4 linked regions of the Homo sapiens genome follow. The protein of the gene in region 1 interacts with the protein of each later gene in a pairwise test. Each region holds a gene or a part of one and is shown on either strand. Other genes may lie near its edges. The genes, in order: TENT5B, RNF11, KRT34 and TNS2.

The links.
Region 2: the proteins of TENT5B (region 1) and RNF11 interact in binary tests that used the Homo sapiens proteins (3 or more experiments, as listed by UniProt).
Region 3: the proteins of TENT5B (region 1) and KRT34 interact in binary tests that used the Homo sapiens proteins (3 or more experiments, as listed by UniProt).
Region 4: the proteins of TENT5B (region 1) and TNS2 interact in binary tests that used the Homo sapiens proteins (3 or more experiments, as listed by UniProt).

The regions. Positions count from the first base shown.
Region 1 is NC_000001.11:27,009,838-27,017,072, reverse strand, and holds the start of TENT5B (terminal nucleotidyltransferase 5B), read left to right. Parts: upstream 1-4,222; 5' UTR 4,223-4,402; coding exon 4,403-4,666; intron 4,667-7,235. UniProt on the Homo sapiens protein: Catalyzes the transfer of one adenosine molecule from an ATP to an mRNA poly(A) tail bearing a 3'-OH terminal group in an ATP hydrolysis-dependent manner.
Region 2 is NC_000001.11:51,239,271-51,246,299, reverse strand, and holds part of RNF11 (RING finger protein 11), read right to left. Parts: intron 1-7,029. UniProt on the Homo sapiens protein: Essential component of a ubiquitin-editing protein complex, comprising also TNFAIP3, ITCH and TAX1BP1, that ensures the transient nature of inflammatory signaling pathways. Promotes the association of TNFAIP3 to RIPK1 after TNF stimulation.
Region 3 is NC_000017.11:41,379,302-41,386,992, forward strand, and holds the start of KRT34 (keratin, type I cuticular Ha4), read right to left. Parts: upstream 3,006-7,691; 5' UTR 2,950-3,005; coding exon of another isoform or gene 2,946-2,949; coding exon 2,598-2,945; intron 2,495-2,597; coding exon 2,412-2,494; intron 1,912-2,411; coding exon 1,755-1,911; intron 431-1,754; coding exon 269-430; intron 178-268; coding exon 52-177; intron 1-51.
Region 4 is NC_000012.12:53,060,036-53,064,879, reverse strand, and holds the end of TNS2 (tensin-2), read right to left. Parts: coding exon 4,622-4,844; intron 4,476-4,621; coding exon 4,325-4,475; intron 4,206-4,324; coding exon 3,616-4,205; intron 3,501-3,615; coding exon 3,411-3,500; intron 3,066-3,410; coding exon 2,940-3,065; intron 2,728-2,939; coding exon 2,635-2,727; intron 2,505-2,634; coding exon 2,427-2,504; intron 2,261-2,426; coding exon 2,183-2,260; intron 1,792-2,182; coding exon 1,623-1,791; intron 1,532-1,622; coding exon 1,463-1,531; intron 1,318-1,462; coding exon 1,288-1,317; intron 1,137-1,287; coding exon 998-1,136; 3' UTR 501-997; downstream 1-500. UniProt on the Homo sapiens protein: Tyrosine-protein phosphatase which regulates cell motility, proliferation and muscle-response to insulin. Phosphatase activity is mediated by binding to phosphatidylinositol-3,4,5-triphosphate (PtdIns(3,4,5)P3) via the SH2 domain.

The sequences.
Region 1 (7,235 bases):
ATCTCTTGAGATCGGGAGTTCGAAACCAGCCTGGACAACATGGTGAAACCCTTTACTAAAAATACAAAAATTAGCCAGGTGTGGGCCTGTAATCCCAGGTACTTGGGAGGCTGAGGCAGGAGAATCATTTGAACCTGGGAGGTGGAGGTTGCAGTGAGCTGAGATTGTGCCACTGTGCTCCAGCCTGGCAACACAGTGAGGCTCTGTCTCAAAAAAAGAAAAAAGTTCTAGAAGGGCAGGGACCTTGCCTATTATTTCTCAGGGCCCAGCCCAGCACCTGGTACACAGATAGGTGCTCAGTATGTATGTTGGCTGATGAATGAATGAATGTATAGATCTTGTGGGTGGTGCCAGGACTGTGCCAAGCATGACTGATCTGTGCTGAGTCTTCTTAGAGGAGCAGTTGAACAATAGGGCTCTGGGGTCAGGAGACCTGGATTTGAGTTCCAAACTGCCAATTAGTGACTGTATAACCTTGGGCATATCACTTAACCTCTCTAAACCTCAGTGTCTTCATCTGTAAATTGGGGATAATGATCCCACATCTTGCGGTGTATCTTTAGGAATTAGAGCTTATGTATGTAAAATAATCTAGTGCATAGTAGGTGTTCAGTAAATGTTAGTTTCCTTTCCCCACACCTCCTTCCTCTGCTGGGGTATGGAGGTGGGGGTAAGAGACAGTGCTGTGGCTGAGCCTCAAGCTCTTTCATCAGTAGCCTCAGAGAGACTTGGTAGTTCAAGGGTTTGGAGACTCTGGACTCAGCCAAAGGCGATTTCTATCTATTTCTTTTCTTTTCTGAGACAGGGTCTCTTTTTGTCACCCAGGCTGGAGTGCAGTGGTGTAAACATGGCTCACTGCAGGCTTGACCTCCCCACCTCAAGCGATTCTCCCACTTCAGCCTCCCAACTAGCTGGGACCACAGGCACGTGCCACCATGCCAGGCTACTTTCTTTTAATTTTTGTAGAGATGAGGTCTCGCTATGAAGGCTGGTCTCAAACTCCTGGTCTCAGATGACTTTCCCACCTCAGCCTCCCAAAGTGCGGGGATTACAGGCATGAGCTACCACTTCCGGCTGCTATCTTTTTTTTTTTAATTTATTTTTATTTATTTATTTATTTTGAGATGGAGTCTTGCTCTGTCGCCCAGGCTGGAGTGCAGTGGCACGATCTCAGCTTACTGGAACTTCCGCCTCCTGGGTTCAAGCAATTCTCCTGCCTCAGCCTCCCAAGTAGCTGGGACTACAGGCACGTGCCACCACACCCGGCTAATTTTTTGTATTTTTAGTAGAGACAGGGTTTCACCATATTGGTCAGGCTGGTCTTGAACTCCTGACCTTATGATCCGCCTGCTTCAGCCTCCCAAAGTGGTGAGATTACAGGAGTGAACAACCGCACCTGGCCTTTTTAAAATTTTTATATAGAGATGAGGTCTCCCTATGTTTTTATGTAGAGATGAGGTCTCCCTGGTCTTACAGGCATGAACCACTGGTCCCCTCCATTTCTTAGCTTTCAAGAAAAGGTAAAACAAAGCAGGCACTTGCCTTGAGGATGATGAAAGGGACTTCCCCAAGGTCACGTGGTCAAGCAGTAGCACAAGTAGTGTGTCCCCTCCCTGAGGGCCAGAGGAAGCCCCTGATCCTAGACAAGATGGAGTGAAGCGAGATGGGCAGCCTCTTGCCTGGGCTCGCCTCCAGAAAGAGGAAGTGGCTGCTCTGTTGTGAGAGTCAGGCTCCTGGGTTTTAGTTCCAGGTCTGTCAGAGTCAACCTGATGGCATTGGGATGTAGTTTACTGTTTCTAGGTCATGATTTCTCCTGTAAATTTGGTGTATTACTCCTTCCCAACCTGCCTGACAGGCGAATGGGAGAATATTACGAGAATGAAATTTAATTTAATATATTGTTAGGAGAACTTTTTTTTGAGAGAGAGAGAGTATAACTATTGTTGCCTAGGCTGGAGTGCAATGGCACAGATCTCGGCTCACTGCAATCTCCGCCTCCCAGGTTCAAGCGATTCTCCTGCCTCAGCCTCCCGAGTAGTTGGGAATACAGGTGCTACAGGTGCCTACCACCACGCCCAGCTAATTTTTTGTATTTTTAGTAGAAATGGGGTTTCACCATGTTAGCCAGGCTGGTCTCAAACTCTTGACCTCAGGTGATCTGCCTGCCTCAGCCTCCCAAAGTGCTGGGATTACAGGCGTGAGCCACCGTGCCTGGTCAGGAGAACAATATTTAAGAAAAAAAATTGCAGCAATGAATCAGATAGACTCAATTTCTGAATTTTTGCTACAGCACATGTTTAAAATCAGAAAAAAAAATTAAAAGCAACAGGTGAGGTTGGGGAAAAATAAAAGTAATAACAGGCCAGGCACAGTAGTTGACACCTGTAATCCCTGCACTTCAGGAGGCTGAAGTGGGCAGATCACTTGAGCCCAGGAGTTCAAGACCAGCCTGGGCAACATGGCCAGACCCTTATCTCTACAAAAAAAAAAAAAAAAACAGAAAAATTAGCTGGGTGCTGTGGCGTGTGCCTGTAGTCCTAGCTACTCAGGAGGCTGGGATTGGGAGGATTGCTTGAGCCAGGGTGGTTGAGGCTGTGGTGAGCCATGATCATGACAGTCAACTCCAGTCCAGGCAACAGAGTGAGACCCTCTCTCAAAAAATAAATAAATAGATAAAAATAAAAAATAAAAGTAACGACAATCATAAGCCTCATCCCCTAGGTCCTGTAAAGTGTGAGAGCAAAACATGTAAACATATTTTTTTTAAATTATGTTTTGTCTAGACCTGCAGAAAAACATGTAAACACATTATTCGTTCTCTAGCTCCAGAAAGGAGCTGGGTCTGCATAGGTACAGTGGAAAAAACATGCACCACAGATTCTATAGCCCTGGTTGAGGACCAGGGCCTTACTAGTTTGCTGTGTGACAGTCGGGTAATCACAAAGCCTCTCTGAGCAGATCTCTCCTTCCCTAAATTGGCTATGCTGTACATCAACGCTCATCATGCTGTGGTTTGCGAGGCCAATCAACAGTGTCTTAGAAAGCCTTTACTTTAGGGCCGGGCACAGTGGCTCACGCCTGTAATCCCAGCACTTTGGGGGTCGAGGTGGGTGGATCACAAGGTCAGGAGTTCAAGACCAGCCTGGCCAATATGGTGAAACCCCCGTGTCTACTAAAAACACAAAAAAATTAGCCGGGCTTGGTGGCGCATGCCTGTAATCCCAGCTAATCGGGAGGCTGAGGCAGGAGAATTGCTTGAACCCGGGAGGCGGAGCTTGCGGTAAGCCAAGATCGCGCCACTACACTCCAGCCTGGGTGACAAAGCGAGACTCTGTCTCGAGAAAAAAAAAAAAAAAAAAAAAAAAAAAGGCCTTTACCTTGGTATGCAGAGTTTATTATTATTATTAATTTTTTTTTTTTTGAGGCGGAGTCTCGCTCTGTCGCCCAGGCTGGGGTGCAGTGGCGCAATCTCGGCTCACTGCAAGCTCCGCCTCCCGGGTTCACGCCATTCTCCTGCCTCAGCCTCCCGAGTAGCTGGGACTACAGGCGCCCGCCACACACCCGGCTAATTTTTTGTATTTTTAGTAAAGACGGGGTTTCACCGTGTTAGCCAGGATGGTCTCGATCTCCTGACCTTGTCATCCGCCCACCTCGGCCTCCCAAAGTGCTGGGATTACAGGCGTGAGCCACCGCGCCGGGCCCAGAGTTGTTTATTATACCTTTCCTAGGCTCTGGAAAACTGCCAGAGCATGAGCAGTGCTGTGCAGAGTTGATCACGTGGCTCAATCTCTTTGGGCTTCTGAAAATAGCAGGACAAGGCTAGGTGACTTCTCAATTTCTTCCAGCGCTAAAAAAAAAAAACAGAAACCTGGAATTTCTCAGTGGTCTGACTCTGCTACAAACTCCGCAGGTCACTTCCCTCCCTCCTGACCCTGGCGGGGCGGGGTGGGCGCTGTCCCTTTAAGTCCAGGCCCGGGCCAATCACAGTGAACAGAAGTTCTTTAAGGACCAAAGGAGGGAATTCAGCCTGAGAAGGAGGGCGGGGCAGGGGCGTGCCCTCTAGCCAATCGGAATCTCCCTAGAGAACAGTGACTCACGTGCAAAGCTCTACAGACCAGTGTCCGGAGCGTTCAGAGGCGGGGCGGCTCTCGCTGTTGGCAGCGGCCCGGACCAATGGGCACGTCGCCCGCGGCCTATAAGAGTCCGCTGGGCCGCGGGCTGCAGGCGCTAGGGTCGGTTAGTCGTCGCCGTCTGAGGTGTTCCCTGGCTTTGTCTCGCCGTCGTTGCCGCCCCGTCCCTGCCTTCGTGCCCCCCGCCTTGGCCCCTGCCCAGCCGCTCTCCCTGTCCTCCTCCCCTTAACCACCCCCACGGTTTCTGCCGTCGGGGCCCGGGGGCCGGGCGGATGATGCCGTCGGAGAGCGGAGCTGAGCGCAGGGACCGGGCGGCTGCTCAGGTGGGGACGGCTGCGGCCACGGCGGTGGCCACGGCAGCCCCGGCAGGCGGCGGCCCCGACCCGGAGGCCTTATCGGCCTTCCCCGGACGGCACCTGAGTGGGCTGAGCTGGCCACAGGTGAAGCGACTGGACGCTCTTCTGAGCGAGCCGATTCCCATTCACGGGCGCGGCAACTTCCCCACGCTGAGCGTGCAGCCCCGGCAGATCGTGCAGGTGAGAGGACGCCAGGCGGGGGATGTGGGGGAATCCCTTCTGAGGCTCTCGTGGCTGGAAGGCATTTGTAGTCTGTTTGACTTTCTAGACAGCTAGGGAAACTGAGGAACGGGGACATGGCTGTAACAATTGCACAGCATTATGAATGGTAGACCAGACCTCCCCCTGCATCTACTAATCCTTCCCCACCTGGCTTTTCCATCTCGACTCTTGGAGAACCCTGATTCCCCACGGATCACTCACCCAGGGCCTGGCTGGGAGAGGGGAGGAGGATGTCAAGGGCATTGGGGGAAGAATTTGTCTCTGCCTGCAAGGACAAAAGACGCCAGGTGGCCCTGGGTGGGTAAGTGTGCATGCTTGAGTCCAAAATAGCTTTTCCTTCCCTATCTGGGCATCCCTGGACCTCACCCTCCTTTCCTCTCTCGAGGTTCTAGGAGCAGCCTCTGCCATTGTGCTCCTACAGCCTTTTGCTGGAGAAACCCCCCCTTCCCCCTCCACCCCGTGGAAAAGCCAAGAAAACTTGTCAGGGACTCCCTCTCTCTCAGCTGGGGTTGTGGCCCAATATTTATTAAGCCGAAGGTCAGACCTGATACCCCACCCCCAAGGGCAACATTAAGTGACCAATTTAGGTGTTTCTTCTCCTTCCCAAGATTGGAAATGAAGGCCAACCCAGGCCTCAGGCCCCACGTCCTCTCTCTCCTGAGGAAAGGGAGAAGAGAATTCTGACAGCCCCTCCCTCCTCCAACTCTTCCCTTTATCTGAACCTCAACGACCCCAAGACTGCTTTTTCATCTGTACAGCCCAGACGCTGTCATGTTCTGAAATACCACAGTGTGGTCATTATTGTACCCATTTTATAGCTGGGGCAGTTTGCCACCCAAGATTACTTAATGAGGTGAAAATCAAACCTAGGGAATTTTGGGTCTTCCCAGGAGCAGATTACAGTAGGTTCAATGTTTTCCCACCCCTTCCCCGGCTCCCAAGGTCAACTTCTAGGTGTTAGGGAGGGTCCTTTGATAAAAGAAACCAAGAAACCCAGCGAGGACTCCTGTGCGTTCCTGCCAACTGATGGCTTCCTTTGGATGAAGTAGGCCTTTCCCCTGCCTCCTACTACCTTGGCTTCCCACAGAGGGGGAGGGTTGCCTGCTGGGGGATTACCTCCCCCACCCTCCCAAGGAACTAGGAACTGGAGGGGGCGGGGGCAGATTCTCCTTGGCTGACTCACACGCGGCCCAGTGGAGTTCGCCGAGGCATTCCTCGGCTGCTCGCTGTCACCTGGGTGATTAGGAAACCAGTCGAGGCTTTAATCCCCGGGACAGTCAAGTCATTCCTGGGGCCCCAGCTGCTGCACCTCCAGGATTGTGGCCCCAGGCATGGCAGGGAGGGGAAGGTGGAGCCCAGTGTGGCAGCCCCCCTCTGCAAGAACAAGGGATACCCTGGAAGGAGGAGAAGTCCTTGCCCTGTCAGTATGGCTCAGATTGCCTCTTGGTGTCTGCTCTGTGCCAAGCCCTGTTTAGGAAACCAAGGGCACAGATGTGACTAGGACTCAGCCTCCATCCCTTCAGGTGCTCCTAGCCAGATGGGGGAGACTCCAGGTCAATAGAAGCTAACTTTACAATGCAATGGTGGTGCCATGTCCTTCTAGACCTGGGTCAGAGATAGCACAGAACAGGGAGCTGTCGGCGATGGTGAGGAAGGGCAGCAGAGACTTCAGAGCTGGGCTGGGAAGTTGGACTTCTGGATTCAGGCCCTGGACTGTTTGTTGTCAATTCTCTTTGCTGGGCTCAGTGTCCCCATCTGTTCAACTGGGATGGATAGATTAGGCTGCTGCTCTCCAACACCCTCTCTGGTTCCAGACTCCAAAGGGGACAGGTGCCTTCACCTGGTCTGTACAGCTGCCTCCACAGCGAAGAAAGTTTCTTGGAAGAAATCCACAGCTGGCAGCTTCTAAAGCTGTTGGGATGTGTGCAGGGATGGGGGCGGGGAGAGGGGGAGGGTGGTGTCGGTTGTTGCCTTGGGGCTTTTCACTGCTGCTGAGTTGTCCTATGGCTCAAAAATTGGAACCTTTCTCCCTCTACCCCCCTGCAAGGCTTTGCCTGTAGTGGCAATCTGAGTGGCTAGAGATTCTGTTCTTGCTTGTACCTGTACTAAAGGGACTCACCCTACTGTAAGGAGCCTTCCCAGAGCTACAGGCAGGGAGGCCTTTTATTGGTTGTGTAACCTTGGACAAGTCCTTTGCCTTCTCTGGGCCCAGAGGATTGAACTAGACAATCTGATTTCTCCAGCTGCAGCCAGAGGGCCTGCATCAGGCGGCAGAGCATGTGAGTTTTGTAAGCCTGCTGGCTGACGGCGTCTGTCAGTCTCCCTGCAGGTCTCAGCAGCAGCCTGGAGCAGAGTGGTTGTGGGGAGGGCCTTGGCATGGGAGAAAGGAGGGTGCAGCCACTGCCCCCTCCATGGCTGGAAAGTCTGATTCAGGAGGCACCAAGCTGCCCTGCAGTACTTGGGTGTGGTGGTATCTGGTGACCGTCTGCCAAACTGGCTGTAGTCACACCTGGGAAGGAGACAACAG
Region 2 (7,029 bases), about 24 Mb from region 1:
ACAGCCTGTCGTCTTCTTTTTTGTTGTTGTTGTTGAGATGGAGTTTCACTCTTGTTGCCCAGGCTAGAGTGCAACAGCGCAACCTAGCCTCAACACAACCTCCACCTCCTGGGTTCAAGAGATTCTCCTGCCTCAGCCTCCCAAGTAGCTGGGATTACAGGCATGTGCCACCACACCCGGCTATTTTTGCATTTTTAGTAGAGACGGGGTTTCTCTATGTTGGTCAGGCTGGTCTCAAACTCCTAACCTCAGGTGACCCGCCCACCTCAGCCTCCCAAAGTACTGAGATTACAGGTGTGAGCCACTGTGCCTGGCCACCTGTCTTCTTTCTTGACTGTGTCTCAGCCAAGGTAAATTCTGCACATGAAGAGGGAAGTGATAAGAGGTTGATTGCAGATACAATCAGAATTAGAGATGTGTTGTATTTCTTTTCTTGCCTCAAGTCGTTTGCAAATATGTCTTTTATGTATTACCTTCCTTACTTCAGGTACAGAGTTAGGGATGTATTTCTGTCCTGTACTCATATGGGTTATTAAAAATAGGCTGTTGGTGTCCAGCCCAGTAGCTCACGCCTGTAATCTCAGCACTTTGGTAGGCCTAGGTGGGTGGATCACGAGGTCAGGAGTTAAGACCAGTCTGGCCAACATGGTGAAACCCCATCTCTACTAAAAATACAAAAAATTAGCCAGGTGTGGTGGTGCTTGCCTCTAATCCCAGCTACTCAGGAGGCTGAGGCATGAGAATCGCTTGAACCCAGGTGGCAGAAGTTGCAGTGGGCTGAGACTGCACCACTGCACTCCAGCCTGGGCGATGGAGTAAGACTCCATCTCCAAAAAAAAAGGCTGTTGGGTGGGCATGGTGGCTCACACTTGTAATCTCAGCACTTTGGGAGGCCGAGGTGGGTGGACTGCTTGAGTTCAGGAGTTTGAGACCAGCCTGGGCAATATAGTGAGACCCCGTCTCTACTAAAAATACAAAAAATAGCTGGGTGTGGTGGTATGCACCTGTGGTCCCAGCTATTCAGGAGACTGAGATGGGAGGACTGCTTGACCCGTCTCTACAAAAAATAAAAATTAGCCAGGCAAAGTGGTGCACGCCTATAGTCCCAGCTACTCAGGAGGCTGAGGTGGGAGGATGGCTTGGGCCCGTGAGGTTGAGGCTTCAGTGAGCCGTGACCATGCCACTACATTCAGCCTAGGCAACAGAGTAAGATTATGTCTCAAAGAAAGAAAAAGAATCCCAATCTACATAAGTATTTCTATTAAAACTTTTAAAGATCAAAATTCTGCAACAAAGGTTTCTACTATTACCTAAAAAATATTTTAAGAAAATCAAGTGCTCAGATCTTATGTACCAAGTAACTCACCATCCCATCTCCATCTTCTCAAGTTACCCTATAATTAGCTCTAGAATTAAACTCTGAACAGACTATCTTACTCTTAGTGATGCATACAATCTTAATGCCAAAAAATCAGCCTTTATTAAAGCACATTCAGAATGAGAGGTCAGGCAGAAACAAAGAAAAATCCTGCAACAATGGGGTCACACAAATAACAAATAACTGGTTACTTATTTATAAAAGTCACCTAGGCAAGCTGAACTTCATGGAACACAAAACCAAATTCAGGCTGGGCGCGGTGGCTCACGCTTGTAATCCCAGCACTTTGGGAGGCCGAGGCAGGAGGATCACAAGGTCAGGAGATCAAGACCACGGTGAAACCCCGTCCCTACTAAAAATACAAAAAATTAGCCAGGTGTGGTGGCGGGCACCTGTAGTCCCAGCTACTCGGGACAGGCTGAGGCAGGAGAATGGCGTGAACCCGGGAGGCGGAGCTTGCAGTGAGCTGAGATCGCGCCACTGCACTCCAGCCTGGGTGACACAGCGAGACTTCGTCTCAAACAAACAAACAAAAAAAAAAACAAATTCAAAAAATATATAATGAAATTAACTTTCCCAAAGCTCAACGTACTTTATAAATTAGAAGTGATAGGCCAAACACTAAAGCACAGGATTCTGGGAATGCTTAATAGACACTAACAACCATACAATTGCACACTCTTACAGCAAAATGCTGATCATTACATTCACTAAAGTATAAGTGCGTGCTTTGTGAAAATTGTAGTTCTAGCAATGTGAAAATGAACCAGACTTGAATTCTAAAAGAGCAGATGTGACACTGTCACAAATAATTAAAATTAAAAGGGTAAAGTGTCTTAAGAATGGTGCATGAATAAAGGAGTTCAGATTAAGAAAAGTGTATGTAGGAGAAATCAGAATTCGTGGATTCTTGGCATTTGAACTGGGCCCTGGATATTAGAAATGAGACTGGGAAGGATTAAGGAAGAACATTCTGGGCAATGGATACAGAATGGGCAAAGACAGGAAAGCAGAAGACATACATGGAATACAGCAAACTGCTCAGTATGACTGGAGTATACAGGTTGTATAAAAGAAAGCACAAGGCTATGAAGAGCTGAAAAAGTATATGTAGAGCCAAATCATGACTTTGAATGCTAAGTCAGATATCTTCAGTGGTTAGTCCTAATAAAGAATCATTAAGGGCCGGGCGTGGTGGCTCACGCCTGTAATCCCAGCTCTTACGGAGGCCAAGGTGAGTGGATTACCTGAGGTTAGGAGTTGCACACCAGCCTGAGCAATATGGTGAAACCCCATTTCTATTAAAAATACAAAAATTAGCTGGGTGTGGTGGCGCATGCCTGTAATCCCAGCTACTCGGGAGGCTGAGGCAGGAGAATTGCTCGGACCCGGGAGGCGGAGGCTGCAGTGAGCTGAGGTGGCACCACTGCACTCCAGCCTGGGCAACAGAGTGAAGACTCTGTTTCAAAAAATAATAATAATAATAATAACAATCATTAAGGATTATGAGGCAAGTGATCTGATCCGGGATGAAATTTATCTGGCAACATGGTATAAAATGAATGAGGAGGAGACATCAATTATGTTGCTGTAAGAACTGATGAGGACAATTATGATGGTGACCTTACAAGGTAAGAAGTCACAGTTCTAATTTAGTCTATCATCAAATATTCACTGGGTGTCTACAATATGGAAGGTAACATTCTACTCCACTAAGATATCTTACAAGTTTAATGTATCATTCTCATTCTTGAGGAAACTGATGTGGAGAAACAACTGTTAAAGCAACAAAAGCTAATAAGGCAATATATGATTTCCAGATAAATGTTACAAACACAAAAAAACTGTACATGACAAATCAGCAGAGACAGGAAAAAAATGGTCAGTGAAGGCTTTATTAACAAAGGTGGAGTTAGTTGATCTGCCCCTCAATAAGAAGGCTGAACTTCTTGAGCATAAAGAAGGGGAGGGATAAAACTTCAAAAAGGTAAATTGTTAAAAGCTGAATAATTGTATAATAAGGCCTAGATACGTGAAATAAATTTGGAGATATTTTCCACCCAAATGTTAAACAAAATGCTAATAAAAAAACACAACCCTTTAATTATCTAAATTTAACTTCGTAAGTTATCAGGAAAATGAGGCATTAATATACCATTACAGGCAGGGCACAGTGACTCACATCCGTAATCCCAACACTGGGAGACATGGTGGGAGGATCACTTGAGCCCAGGAGTTCGAAACTAGCCTGGGCAAAGTGAGACTCCATCTCTAAAAAAAACAAGCCCATCCCCCACAAAACATTATAGCATTGCATGCTTAAAAATAAGCAGTACATTCTAGATTTTTTATAAGGAAGGGGGTTATTTTTAGTGCATTCTACAGGATAAACCAATCCTTTTAACAACAAAAGAGGGTTTTTGGTTTTGTTTGTTTTTTGTTTTTGTTTGGTATTTTAATAGAGATGGGGGTCTCACTTTGTTGCCCAGGCTGGTCTCGAATTCCTGGGGTCAAGTGATCCTCCTGCCTCTGCCACCTAAGTGCTGGGATGACAGGTGTGAGCCACTGTGCCCAGCCAAAAAAAAAAAAAAAAAAAGGTATCTTGAAGAAAGCTTTATGCAGACACAATTTGAAATATCCAAAATGTTACATTTTCTTATTTGTCAAAAAAGCTCCCCAAAACAATCTGATAAATTCTTTCCTTTTTCATATTTTACATGTAAGCGGCAGAGCCAGAATTTGAACACAGGACAATCTGACTCTAAAAGCAGAGCTATACTTGCATTCAATGCTATACAAACTTATTTTCTCAGGATTTTAAAATTTCAAATGTATCAATCAAAAAGTATAGGTCGGGGAAGAAGACTGGCGAATCTCAAACTATATAACTACTGCAAAATTGAGAGACACCTATCCTTATTTTTATATATTCAGATTAGAAAATGTAACATGGTTTGTTGTTCAATGAATATTACACTCTTTTAACAAAGTGCCTCCCTCAATTTAGCACATAACAAAGCTCTTGACAGTGACACAGGGGTACCTCAAGCTGTTTTACATATGCCTTTCAGGGCTGGGCTGCCTACCTGGCCTCCCCCTCTCATGGACCTCCCTTCTTCAGCCTTTCCTGGCTTATCCTCCCACTCACTGTCCTTCCAAGATTGCCTTCGCTGGGCAGATTTCCTCTGTATTATTTTTAAACATTTAGGAATAAGGGAGTTGGGTAGAGGGTGCGACAAATTTGTTTCTACTTTCTAATTTGACAAACACCCTAAATCTCTTTGCATCCAATACTTCAAGAATAGGGATTCAAGTACTTTCTTTTTCTCCCCCAAGTACTTTCCCATTACATAAATATCTTGCGGTGATATATATACACGGTAAAAACCCCTAAATCACTTAACACTTAGTGTAAACCAATTGCTGTATTTAATATTACTGGAATTTGACTTTTTAGGATTCCTTAAAACTGATCTACAACAGCTAGACACGGTGGTGTAACCCTGTAGTCCCAGCTACTCAGGAGGCTGAAGCCACAAGATCCTTTGAGACCAGGAAGTGGAGGCTGCAATGCACTATAATTGCACCTGTGAATAGCTACTGCCCTCCAGCCTGGGCAACACAGCAAGACCTCATCTCTAAAGGAAATAAATTTTTTTTAAAACCTGAGCCAGGCAGAGTAGAAGTGCACCTGTAACCCTAGCTACTCAAGAGGCTGAGGCAGGAGTATCCCTTGAGCCCAGGAGTTTGAGACTAGCAACATAATGAGACCCTGTCTCTATTTTTTAAATTTAAAAAATATAAAGGGCAGGCTCAGGGGCTTACGCCTGTAATCCCAGCACTCTGGAAGGCCAAGGTGGGCAGATCACCTGAAGTCAGGAGTTTGAGACCAGCCTGGTCAACATGGCAAAACTCCATCTCTACCAAAAGTACAAAAATCAGTTGGCCTTGGTGGCGCATGCCTGTAGTACCAACTACTCCAGAGGCTGAGGCAGGAGAATCGCTTGAACCCAAGAGGCAGAGCCAAGATGACACCACTGCACTCTAGCTGGGCAACAAGGTGAGACTTGGTCTCAAAAAAGAGAAAACAAAAAAACCCAAACATATATATACAGAGAGAGACCAGCCTGGGTAACACAGGGAGGCCCAGTCACAAAACAAAAAAACAAACAAAAAAAAACCTGATCTACAATATAGAAGCAAAAATGGCACTAGGAATATGCAGAGTTCTTGTAAGCAGTGCAACTATACCTGCCTCAAATACATTAGTTCATTTAAAAGAAATCTATTCATTCGTTCAACCAAATTACTGAATGCCTAACATGTGCCAGGCACTGTTATAAGTACTTAGGAAACACCAATTAAAAAAAAAAATCCCCTTTCCTCCTTTCTACCTAGTGGGAGAAGACAGGTAATAGACAACGCAACTTTCTAACACATGTTGGAATGTAATAAATGGTATTGGGGGGGAAAACAACAGGGTGAGAGGGACTTCCAGGTTATTAGGGCAGGTTGCACTTTCAAACAGGGTGGTCAGAGAAGGTTTAAGGGGGCAGTGAGAAAAGACTTGAAGGAGGTAAGGGAGTCAGTCAGCCATGAAATCTGGGGAAGAGTATTCCAGAATAAGGAGGACAAAGGTCCTAGAATAGCAATGAGGACAGGGAAGCTGGAGGGAAGCCAACAAAGGGGTTAGCTGTAGGTGTCAAGGGACATGCGTGGAAACAAGGGGTACAGATTATGTAGGGTTTATGCGACACTATAAGGAATCTGATTTTTACTTTGAATGAAACAAGGATCCACACAGAGGGTTGGGGAGACTGTCATGCTCAGTTTTACCAAAATAACTGTGGCTGTTGTATTGAGGACAGGCCTTAGCGAGGACAAGGGTGAAAGCAGGGATAACTGTTAGGAGGCTACAAAAGAAACCATGGAAAGAAATATACACTTCCTACAAACTTGGATCATAATGGTGCAGGGATTTACTTTAAGGCAAAAATAAATAAAAACAAATTTGTCAGATGTTAATAGGAAATAACTGTAACTGGCTCTTGTCATTATATGTACATTGTACATATAAAGCAGCAAACAATGACATCTTTTAACTACTCACCTCAAGAGAACATGTTCCTTTACAATCAGCTATTCACTGTTAATTACATATAATTTGTTGAAAAAGTTACTTTTATCAACTGAGAATACTATAAATCTGCTGTGTGAGGTAGCTAACGCCTGTAATCCCAGTCTTTGGGAGGCTGAGGGAGGAGGATCACCTGAAGCCAGGAGTTTGAGGCTGCCAAGTGAGCAATCCAGTCTAACCTGGATGACAGAGGGAGATTCTCAACTCAAATAAATGAATAAATAACCTTGGATTGCTGTTTCTCAGATCATCTAAAATAACCATTCCTAAGACAGATCTTATTTCTTTGGGGGTGGGGGACAATACTTTTTCTCCAAAAGTTTCTTTTTATGCTCCCATGTTTTAAAGTAATTTTCTTCTGATTGATACTGAATTTGTATATTAGTCTGCGTCATTCACTTCAGGAAACTGCAACCATAAAAAACTCCCACTGTCAAAAATATAACATTTCCAAAAAAAGTTCCTTCATGACACCAAAAACCCCTCATCCCTCATCATCACCTAGTTCTTCTGG
Region 3 (7,691 bases), on another chromosome or scaffold:
CTCTGCCTCCCAAGTTCCCATCGCTCACCAGCAGGTCTGAACAATACACACCAGGTTGTGCTGGGCCTGCAGCTCGATCTCCAGGGCGTTGACTGTGCGTCTCAGCTCGATGATCTCCGCCTGGCAGGACTGCAGCTGCTCTGAGCTGGATACCACCTGCTTGTTCAGCTCCTCGGTCTGAAACACCCAAGTGGGGAAAGGATCAGACCCTGTCTCCAGGGCCCTGGGGCACCTCGGGTCCTGAGTGGCCATGTGCTTAGATGCCCACCTGCGTGGCGAACCATTGCTCCACTTCCCTGCGGTTAATTTCCACCAGAGCCTCATACTGACTCCTGGTCTCGTTCAGGACCTGGTTCAGGTCCACAGTGGGGGCAGTGTCCACCTCCACGTTGAGGCGGTCTCCAAGCTGGGAGCGCAGGGTGTTAACCTCCTGTTGGAGAAAAGGGAAACAATGAACCTACGGCAATGGATCTGCCATTTTCCTGCTCCAGGGAAATGAGCACAATACTGCCCAAAAAGCACTAAAAGGAATATTCTGATCATTCCCAAAGAGTGACACACACATTTTATAGCAATAAACTCCAACAGGGATCACATCAATTGCTGTCCCATGGAAGATGTGCCATCTTCCTGCTCTGGGAAAATGAGCTTGATGCTGCCCAGAAAGCACTAAAAGGGGCCGGGCACAGTGGCTCAAGCCTGTAATCCCAGCACTTTGGGAGGCAGAGGCAGGTGGATCACGAAGTCAGGAGATCGAAACCATCCTAGCCAACATGGTGAAACCCCATCTCTACTAACAATACAAAAATTAGCTGGGCGTGGTGGCATGTGCCTGTAATCCCAGCTACTCAGGAGGCTGAGGCAAGTGAATCACTTGAACCAGGGAGTCGGATGTTACAGTGAGCCTAGATCACGCCACTGCACTCCAGCCTGGTGACAGAGCATGACTCCGTCAAAAAAAAAAAAGCACTAAAAGGAAGATTCTGATCATTCCCAAAGAGTGACACACACATTTTATAGCAATAAACTCCAACAGGGATCACGTCAATTGTTGTCCCATAGAAACGGAAACAACCTCACACCTTCTACAAGACTAAGTCTAAACTCCTTGGCATATGCAAGTCCTTCCTCGCTTCCCATCACATCTTCACTTTCATCCCTTGGAGGTACTGCATGCCCAGCCATACCCAGATACACCCTGCCCTGCCACTTCTGTGTCTTTGTTCAACCTCTTCCCTCAGACTGAAACACCCAAGTACTGGAATCCTCCTCTTTGCATCTGAGAAGAGTTCCCTATCTCCTCTTGGGCAGCCTGGATTATTTCTAGAGCATACTGCTTGTACATCTCATATGGTACTTGTTTCACTCTGTCTTGTTTATATCACTGTGTTTATATGACTGTCTTTCTATACTAGACTGTGAGCTCTTTTAAGAAAAGGGCCATGTCTTATTTCTTTTTTGTCCCTCCATCTCCACCACCAAATTCAGGACCTAGCAGTGATCAGCAGAGAGCAGGGCTCAATGAATGATGTCCCTCCTCAGTAATTCCAACACCTGCCTAACCCTCACCCAGCCGCTGAAGAATGAGCAGCTCACTCCACTCCTTGATATGGATGTAGCACCGTCACTCTCTGAGAACATCTTGAGTTCCTCAGAGAAGGGTCCCAGACCAGGGATCCAGACAGTAATCCTCTCCTGATTCCCAGTGCTAGTAGCTTAGTTCTGAGGCCTGCTTTTGTGAATTTGTTTCATACCTCCTCATGGTTCTTCTTCAAGCAGATCAGCTCCTCCCTCAGGGACTCCACCTGGGACTCCAGGTCAGACTTGCAGAGGGTCAGCTCATCCAGGATCCTGCGTATGCTGTTGATGTCCGACTCCACCAACAGCCTCAGGGACTGCTCCGTCTGGTACCTGCACGTGTCGGAGTGGGAGGATAAGTCAGGAAAGAAAACCACCTTCCCCTCTCATGTGTTGTTTGGGTAGAATTGGCCTGAATCTTCTTGAACTTACAGTTTTCTGCCTCTTCTCTTCCATATGCTTCAGTCAAGCTGTCCATGGATAGGCTGAAGAGGTTCCCTGACTCACCTAACACCACGAGGAGCCCACAGGCACACATGAGATGAAGTCTCTCACTGTGTTCTCGGTTTTGTTAGCTAATATACCACCAAATCAATTCCCAAAGAACAATTCATTTCAATCTCTGAATTTTGTGGTTTAAGAAACACTTCCAAAAAAAACCAGTATAGACCAAAGAGCAGGCAGCACATGAGTCTAGTTCCCTATTTGAAACTAATTTTACATAACCAGCCCTAGGAGGAGAAATAGAGAGAAATGGCTTTCTCCTCTCTTCCAGGCAATAGTAGGTCCCTAGGGCCATGAAAGAACCATAGGGACCTTGAAGTTCAACATACTTGCTTCTGAAGTCGTCAGAGGCCAGCTTGGCATTGTCAATGTTCACCACCAGCCTGGCATTCTCAGCCTTGGCACACAGAATCTGAAAAGAAATTTCTCTCATGAGGTACACTTGAACTTGAAAATGTCTTACTGTTCAAAGAGAGCCAGCTGCTGCTGGCCCCCCATATGGCCAACCCCCTCACCTTCTGCTGGAGCTCCTCAATGGTCTTGAAGTAGGACTGGTAGCTGGGGCACAGCAAGGGCTCCTGCTGCTGGGACCGCTCCTGGATGAGTTTCTCCAGCTCCGCGTTGTCCCGCTCCAGCTGACGCACCTTCTCCAGGTAGCTGGCCAGGCGGTCGTTCAGGAACTGCATAGTCTCCTTCTCGCTGCCATTGAAGGAGCCCTCACAGAACCAGTTGCAGTTGCTCACATTGGCGGGGATGTTGCAGGCCCCAGGCAGGGTGTAGCCGTGGCAGCTGGGGGGCACGCAGGGCCGGGAGGAGCAGCTGGTGCGGCAGCCCAGGCTGGGCAGGCAACAACTGTAAGACATGGTGCTGGAACAGGTAATGGAAAAGCAGGTAAGCTGCTGGAGGTGGATGTGGGCAGGTTTGAGTCTCTCCTTCCTCTGCAGTCCTTTTATACCATTAATTGTGGGTGGGGGCTTGGCATACAGCATAGTTTCCTTTCCTAATGCTTCAGCTAATTTTTCTCCAAAATATGCTAGTTAGATGCTTCTAAAGAGTCCCCCCTCAACCCATAAAATTATTCCATTCAGCTTATGTCACACCAGGCTCTTCCTGGGTGCTAGTGGTTGGTGAAATCAGAGTTTCATCAGATGGCTTCATAGGAGATAGAATCATCACAGCCCCAAAAGGCTGTCTGCATTACTCAGAGGGGAGGACAGCCAGGGACATGGGGTGGAGTTGTTTGGGAATCAGGGATTCCTCACCCAGGAGTTTCCGCCACTGTTCTTTCTCCCCAGAGAGAGAGCTCTGAGAGAGAGCTTTGAGAGTTACTCTTCCAAGTAGCTCTTTCCTCCCACATTCATCCATGTTTCAGCATTCAATTTGTTTTTATAGCAGAAACTCAACCTGTATTCGCCGAAATGATCCTGAGCCTTACTATTCGTTGGGGTTTAGGGAACTTGCCAACACATGGAGCAACTGAAAACAATGGCATGTTCATGGTTGAGAAATGAGAAAGTAAAATGGAAACCAATGGAATGGATGGGAGTATACCTAAAAGAGGGCATCTGCAAATGGCAGCCCACACGTCAAGTTTACCCTGCTGAATTTTTGTAAATAAAGTTTTTGTTTGTTTGTTTTCTGTTTTTTTTTTTTTGAGACAGAGTCTCACTCTGTCGCCCAGGCTGGAGTGCAGTGGCACGATCTCGGCTCACTGCAACCTCCACCTCCCGGGTTCAAGCAATTATCTGCCTCAGCCCCCCGAGTAGCTGGGATTACAGGTGCCCGCCACCACACCCGGCTAATTTTTGTGTTTTTAGCAGAAATGGGGTTTCACCATGTTGGCCAGGCTGCTCTTGAACTCCTGAACTCGTGATCCGCCCGCCTCGGCCTCCCAAAGTGCTGGGATTACAGGCGTGAGCCAATGCGTCCGGCAGTAAATAAAGTTTTAATGGAACACAGCCATGCCCATTTGTTTAGCTATTGTATATGGCTGCTTTTGTGCTACAGTGGCAGAGTTGTGTAGTTGTGACAGAGACTATAGTGTCCACAAAGCCCTAAAATTAAAAAATTTGCCAACTTGTACTAAAGCAACAGCCTCTCTAAAGATGAGCAAGAGTAGAAATATCTAGAAGAAAAAATATGCTGGAAACAGTCTGGAGCAGTGAGAGTTCAGATGGCAGCACTGAAGCATGAATATGAAGCATAATACTGCAGACTCACCAAGAAACGAAAATTGGAGCAAGGGTGCTCAGAGGTATCTTTGTATCCATGGTGGCTTTTTCTCAAATTCTCTGGAAATTTCTATCATCTTATTTCTAGACTTGTTCCTCTTTCTAGAGTATTAACTCTCCTAGAGGTATGACTATGCCAGCCTGAGATGCTTCCAGGACAAGCCACAGTGCCCATGAGAATGCAGATTTACTCTGTTGTCCCTACAAGTAGACACTGTCTCTGATAAGTGTGCTTCTATCACCTCTGGGATCCAGTTACCCTTTGACTCTTGCATAACCTAGGGAGCCTCTCTATTGCCCAATAATCACTCTTCACAGAATAGCCTTCCCTACCTCACTTCTTTTCCCTGTCACTCTACCTTGCCTTTGTTCCGCAGGGAAACAAAGTCATGTTTCAGAAAGAAGTCCCAAAAGATTATTTGTGGAACACAATACAAATCATTTAAAGAAGGCTGCATCTGAATTTCAAAAGCAGCATGAGAGGAGCAGAAAAGCACATCTTCGATTTTATTTATTTGAGTGTTTCCTCTTTTTTTCTTAGTCTATCTAGAGGTTTGTAAATTTTCTGTGTCTTTCAAAAAAACTCTGTTTCATTGATTTTTTGCTATTGTTTTTCTAGTCTCTATTTTTATTTATTTCTGCTCTAAGTTTTATCGTAAGTATCATAATAAAATTTAGAGCAAAAAGTGTTATTATATCCTTCCTGCTGCTAACTTTGAGCTTAGTTTGTTCTTTATCTTTTTTAATTTTTTAATTTTTGTAGGTACATGGTAGGCGTGTGTGTATGTTTAGATATAGGTTTATGTATATACATATATAAAACTTTCCTCTTAGTACTGCTTTTGCTGCATCCCATAAATTTTGATACGTTGTGTTCTCATTTTCATTTGTCTCAAGATATTTTCTAATTTCCTTTTTGATTTCTTCTTTGACCCATTGATTATTTAAATGTTTTTTAATTTCTACATATTTGTGTATTTTTCAGTTTTTTTCTTATTTCCGTTCTAGTTTTCTAGTTTCATTCCATTGTGGTAGGAAAAGATACTTAGTATGATTTCAATCCTCTTAAATTCGTTAAGACTTGTTTTGTGACCCAACATATGATCTATCCTGGACAATGTTCCGCATGCACTGGAGAATATGCATTCTGCTACCATTGGATAGAACGTGTTATTTGTTAGGTCCATTTGTTCTATAGTATTGCTCAAATCTGTTGTTTCCTTGTTGATTTTCTATCTGAATGTTCTATTCATTATCAAAAGTGAGTTACTGAATTCTTCTATTATTGCATTGTCCATTTCTCCCTTTGGTTCTGTCAATGTTTGTTATATATATATTAGGTGCTCTGATGTTGGGTTCATATATGTGTGCAATTGTTATATCTTCCTGGTGAATTTTTTCATTATTATATAATGTTCTTCTTTGCCTTTTGTGACAATTTTTGACTTAAAGACTATTTTGTCTGATATATAAGTACAGCCATCCTGCTGTCTTTTGGTTACCATTTGTACGGAATATTTTTTTTCCCATTCCTTCACTTTCAGCCTATACATTGTCTTTAAATCTAAAGTCAGTCTCTTCTAGATAGTATGTAGATAGTACTTGTTGGTTTTTTGAAAATCCATTCAGCTACTCCATGTCTTTTGATTGGAGAGTTTAATTCATTTACATTTCAATAAATTATTGATAGGGAAAGACTAATATTGCCATTTTGTTAATTCTTTTGTCTTTCTCAGAGTTCTTTTGTCTCTCTTTTCCTATCTTGCTGTCTTCCTTTGTGTTGCATGGATTTTTGTATCGATATGTTTTTATTCTTTTTTCTTTTTCTTTTGTGTATCTTCTATAGGTATTTTTTTGTGATCATCATAGGGCTTATATGAAACAACTTATAACTGTCTGTTTTCAGCTGATAACTTTCACTGCATACAAAAACTACTCTTTTGCTTCTCCCACACACATCTTTTATGTATTGATGTCATTATTTACATCTTGTTATATTGCATATGCATTAACCTATTTTTATAGTTATAGTTATTTTTAATACTTTTATCTTTTAAATTTTATAGTAGAGGGCCAAGTGTGGTGGCTCACACCTATAATCCCAGCACTTTTGGAGGCTGAGGAGGGCAGATCACCTGAGGTCAGGAGTTCGAGAACATCCTGGCCAACATGGAGAAACTCTGTCTGTACTAAAAATATAAATATTAGCTGGGCGTGGTGGCAGGCACCTATAATCCCAGCTACTCAGGAGGCTGAGACAGGAGAATCGCTTGAACCCGGGAGGCGGAGGTTGCAGTGAGCCAAGATCACACCACTGCATACCAGCCTGGGTGACAAGAGTGAAACTCTGTCTCAAAAATAAATAAATAAATAAATAAATAAATAAATAAATAAATAAATAAATAAATTTTATAGTAGAATTAAAAGAGTGATTTACCTACCACCATTATAGTATTACAGTAGTCTATATTTATCAGTATATTTACATTTACCAGCAAGTTTTATACTTTCACATGCATTTATATTACTGTTTAACATCCTTTTGTTCCAACTTAAAGAACTTCCTTTAACATTTTTTGTAAGGCAGGTCCAGCGATGATGAACTACCTCAGCTTTTGTTTATCTATAAAAGTCTGTATCTCTCCTTCAGTTTTGAAGGATAATTGTACTGGGAATGATATTCTTGGTTGGCAGTTTGTTTGTTGGTTGGTTGGTTTGTTTTCAGCACTTTAAATATATTATCCCATGTCCTTCCGGCCTGCAAAGTTTCTGCTAAGAAATGTATTAATTACCTTATGGAGGTTCCCTTGTACATGATGTCACTTTTCTCTTGCTGCTTTCAAAATTCCCTATTTGTCTTTGACTTCTGACAATTCAATTATAATGTGTATCACTTTGATTTATCTGAACATCTTATTTGGGATACACTGGGCTTCCTGGATCTGGATGTCAATGTTCTTTCTCAGGTTTCAGGAGTTTTGAGCCATTATTTTTTTTAATAAGTTTTCTAAACTTTCTCTCTCTCTTCTCCTTCTGGATCTTCCTAATGTGAATGTTGGTCTGCCTGATGATGTCCCATACATCTCTTAAGCTTTCTTTACTCTTTTTTATTCTTTTTTCTTTTTGTTCCTCTGGATAATTTCCAATGGCCTGACTTTGAGTTCACTGATCCTATCTCCTGCTTGATTTAGTGTGCTATTGAATCCCTCTATTGAATTTTTCAATTCAGTTATTGTATTTTTCAGCAGCATGATTTCTGTTTGGTACTTTTTGTATTTTCTGCCTTTTTGTTGAAAATTCTCACTTTGTGTATTGTTCTTCTGGCCTTGCAGAGCATCTTTAATTATGGTTATTTTGTTTTTGTTTTGTTTTGTTGAG
Region 4 (4,844 bases), on another chromosome or scaffold:
TCTAGCACTTACATGTGTCCTCCCCACCAAGCCCTCTATCTCCTTCTAATCCTTCAACCCCTGGCCCCCTCCCCGTAACAGTGACTTTTCCAGGGAGGAAGAGGCAGCAGGAGCTGTTGGCCTTGGTTTGCACAGAGCGGGTAGGGCTGTAGGGAAAGCGGGTGAGCTGTTGTGCTGCTGGGCCTCCCTTTGGCCCTCGCTTCCCACCCTACGATGTATGAAATGTATGTACAGACCAGAGATGTTTATACAGCCGATAAAGATGGAGTTTCCGTATTTATCAGTATGGCCGGAACCAGGAGCCTTTCTAGTCCACTGGGCTAGGAACAGGACTGCTGGATGGGGGCAGCCGAAGGCAGCTTGCTCATGGGGAGATGTGGACCAATGTTGGGCCAGGGATGGGAATCATATGTTCCATGGGCCTGGCTACAGGCCTGAGCACAGATACGTCCCCTGGGAGATGAGGCTTTGACCTTCCTGTGAATAAGTGTTGACTCCAATTTCGGCTAAAGTTTATAGAAATTCTTTATTATTAGACAAAAATAGACTCTCTTTTTTCCCCTATTCATGTGATCCTACTCTGAATCTCTGCTCAGAGGAGGCAGTGACTCGCTCCCCACCCCTCTCCCATCCCTGCCGTGCTGGCACCTGCAGCTGGGTGGAACTGGCAGGGGCTGATCCCCTGGAGGGCTGACGTTCTCCTGCAGGTGGGGCTGCCTGATCTCCTTCGGGGCTCAACTGCTGATGCCTCCTCACCCCTCACACACCCATCTCTGCCATCTGCTCACATGCAAGGTCATCTTGTGGGCCTGTCCACTTAACTTAGCAGGCTGGGGGCGGGGAAGGAGAGCAGTGTCCCAGGCCTGATGCCCACTCCTCATTCCTAAGGGAGGGTGCTTTCTCCTGGGTCTCCTGGGTCCAGGCCAGGGGATGTGAGGGCTGTGGGGTGCTGGGAGGGGGGCAGTGTTGATGTGGGCTCTGAGCTTGTGGCCTTCCTTCATTTTCTCTGGCCCAGTAGAACTTTGGTGATGAAGGTGACAATGGCGCCAGCAGGCTGATCTGGGTCAAGCTCTGCAAAGAGGTGACACACATTCTCCCAGGGGCTTCCCGGCTTCTTGGCCACGAAACCAAAGATCCTAGGGGGATAAAGGGTGGGGAAGGGGCTTAACATTCCTTCCACAAGGGAATGTAGCTGGCCTTGGTGAGACAAATCAAATGCCAGCATTGAGAGGACAGCAGCGCCCTGGTCCCTTGGAAGGAAGAGGCTGAATTCGTGGGGAGGCTTACTTGGAGGTGGTCCCGTCTGGGTTGGTCCATCTGCAGAAGGAGAAGAAGGTGAAGATGCACACCCCAGGGGACAGCTGCTGAAGGGGGGCCGGGGCCGGGGCTGGGGCTGGGGCTGGGAGCTGGGACCTGGTGGGACCATGGGGATTTGGGGCAAAGGGTTTGGAGGGAGAGTCACCTCCGGTCTTGAGGGTCAGTGCTGGAGAAGGTGATGCTGTTCACTGGATAATGGCGGCGAAAGAAGAGCCTGCAAGGAGGAGGGTGAGGAAGGTCACACTCAGAAACATGAGCCCCCAGGGGCCTTAAGCATGGGGTTCTACAGGGCTGAGTATACATACTTCCTTTGGTTGTCCGTCAGTGTAATGCCCTGGGCTGACACCTTGAAGTGGACAACAGCTGGTGTCGGGCGGGGGCTACAGCTCAGAGCTGCAGAGCTGGCCCGGGCCACAGCTTGGGGGCCCGTCAGTGACTCTGTCTCCACTGAGGTCAAGTAGAGCACGCTGCAGGCTACAGGGGCAGGGAGTGGGTCAGGGAGGGAGTGCCCATCCCCTAGCCACCCCCACCAGCTCTTGCACATTCCCCAGCTACTGCTGTCACATGCTTTACAATCACATAGGTGACTTGTTAAAAAGGCAGATTCCATGACTCTACTGGATCTACAGTCAGAAGCGAGGCAGAGAAGCCTCCCTGCTACCACCCCATGATCGTCTTGTTCATGAGACTTTGAGAACCTAGGCTGAGGACCCAATTCCTCATCCCCGACAGTATGGGGCTCCCCTGCCCTCATGGGTTGGCCAGGGCTCACCCACCTCAAGGCCTTTCAGTGCCCCATGCCCTGTATCCACAATGCCCCCTTGGTGCCCAGGGAGAGGGAGGGGAGTGGAGGGGAAGTCTCTACCAGCACCCTGACGCAGGAGGTCTGCCGCTGTGCTCATGTTGGTGGGCACTGGAGCCTCTGGGGTCTCTTCCAGAGGATCTGAGGGCAATGAGAACCGACAGGGAAGCTCAGAAGGCAGAGTGTTCCCCAGGCTGGAGCACTCCCTCTGCTTCCCCAAGGGAAGGCGGGGAGCCAAGACCTCTGGATCCTGCTTTGGCTGCAGGGGGTAGGGAGAGGTGGGGAGGACAGATGACCAGACACTCACCTTTGCTGGGAATGCGCAGGCAGCAGGGCAGGGAGATGGGGGAGATGGAGTGCTGGGAGACCAAGGCGGACAGGCTGCCTGTGGGAGAGGAGGTAGGAAAGTCCCGAGATGCCCAGGGTGCCCCGCCTTTCCCTTCCATCCTCCTGAGATCCCTTGGCATCTCCCTAAACCGACCCAACGTAGCCTTCCCCAGGCTCCTGCTTCTCACCAAAGTAGGGCTCACTGGGGCAGCCCTTGATCTTCACCCCTTTGGGCCCAGTCTCGATGAGGAAATGGCGGACCAGCTGTTCCACGGGGTCCCCTGAGAGGAGGCGAGGGGAAGATTGCGGCTTTAGGATTCCAGGTTCCAGCTTCTTCCCTAATGGGATTCTTTCCCGAGCAGCTGAGGTCTTTTCCTACCTCTCCCCTCTACAGCGGCATGGCCAGCACAGCACCCCCACCTGCCCTGTTACCTTGCCTCTGGCACCACCCCCAACTTCATCCCCACCCCACTCAGGTTTGGGTGTTCTGTACCTTTCCAGGGCTGGGCACTGGGTGGCGGTGTGGCCACCTTGAGGGCCAGCCCATAAGCTCCTTGGAATGAATGACTGTCCCTGATCAGGAAGGCCCCAGGGTCCTTGTCCTTCAGCAGGGCAATGGCTGCAGGGTGAGGGGTAGCGGGCAGTGGGGAGGAGTTTTCACAGGGGTGGACTGAGCCCCATGCAGCCCCCCTCCTCTGCTGCCAAGCTCCATGGTCTCTGCCCTGACAGCTGTGGTGGCGGTAAGAGTCTGAGGCCAGGGCTCTAGAGTTCACAGGGGTTTTGACCATGTTGGATCTCACCGCCTTGGCCCAAAGCCCAGAATCACCTGCTGGTAAACACTCAGCCAAGAGTAAACACAGCTCAGACAGGAGGAGCCAAGAGCTTCAACAGGATGGGACTTAAAGCCAAGACAGACACCCTGGAAGGTGGGATGCAGTGGGGTGGGGGCAGGCTGGCTTCTCACCTTGGTCACGGGACAGGTGTGGCTTGTACCAGAACTTGGATGTATCCTGGACAAACTTGACATTGCTTTGGCTCTCTTGTGTAGGAGGCTCTAGGACAGGGAGGGAGTAGGTTCAGACCCCAGGGTACCCGGGTCCCCATCCATGCTACATCCCAGGAGAAAGGGTTCTCTCAAGGTGGCACCAACCCCCTCAAGGCCTTTATACCTGGGGTTTGGGGGACATTATCTGAGAGCAGAGGTGCGAAGGTGACATGGTGACTGATGCCTCTGGCTGGCGATGATGCCTGCTCTGGGCCCCAGGGTCCTGGCTGTTGCCCCGGCCCGGGCAGGTGGCGTTTCTCAGGAAGTGGGGGCTGGCTAAGGCCATTGGTGTCATAGGAGGCAGCCAGGGGGAAAGCAGGTGTAGGTGAGCTCTGAGGCGGCTCTGGGCTGGCCACAAGCCAGGGCATCTGGGAAGGCACAGGAGTGAGGGGAGACCCATCTGGGCTGTCGGGGGGGCCTCGAGGGCCTTGCCAGGGGGCGTGGCGGAGGCCAGGAAGTGTGGTGGGCACAGGGCTCCGAGGACTGGCGCCATCTGAGTGGCCCCCTGGACTCCTTTCCTGAGGCCAGTCACTGGGCGAGCTGGGAGGGAAGGTCGGAGAGACTGGGCTAGGGGCCAGAGGCTCAGGCCCACTTCCCGACGGCAGCTCAGGGGCCTTTCCGGTGCCTGCCTGGGAAACAGGGGGCAAGGCCTCGCCAGGACTCAGTCTCTGAGTGGGCGCTGAGGTGGGGGACCTGGTGTCCTGTCGCCGGGTGCTGTAGGGTGGAAGGGCAGATGGTCAGCAGAGCCCCCATTGTGGCTGCTCCCACCCCACCTGCCTTCATCAACTGCTTGGACAAGAAAGCACTCGAGCATCCCCGGCCCCTCTGCATACCTTTCCTTGCCCTGGACTGGACTGCTGGTGTGCAGGGGCGTGGAGGGACCAGACAACTCTGACGAAGCACTGCATGGGGCATCTCGGGGAGACCGAGGCAGTGTGCTGTGCCCACTGGGGCCCTCCCTCCAGGACACCGGCTCCAGCGACTCTGCAGTGAAGGGGAGAGGTGGGCTGTGAGCAGGATGGGGCTCTTCTGTCTGGCTTAGCTGTTTCTCACCCTGTTCCCCCTTGACTTCCCCACCATCTTCCAGAACCTCCTCTGCCCTGGGCACTCCGCACTCTGGTGCCCCTCACCTGCAGATGCCAAAGGTCCTGCTGAGGCCAGGTGCCCAGGCAATGGGTACCTGTCCCCTCCCTCCTCCGTAGGGATCTCGTAGCTCAGCTTCCTAGATTGTGGATAGGGCGGGCTGCCCGGGGAAATGGAGCCAGCCCGTGGGGAGTGGGCACCAGGGCTGGGATACCCTCTGCCCTCTCCTGGAGAGCCACAGCTATGAGGCACACGGCCATATGCTGGGCA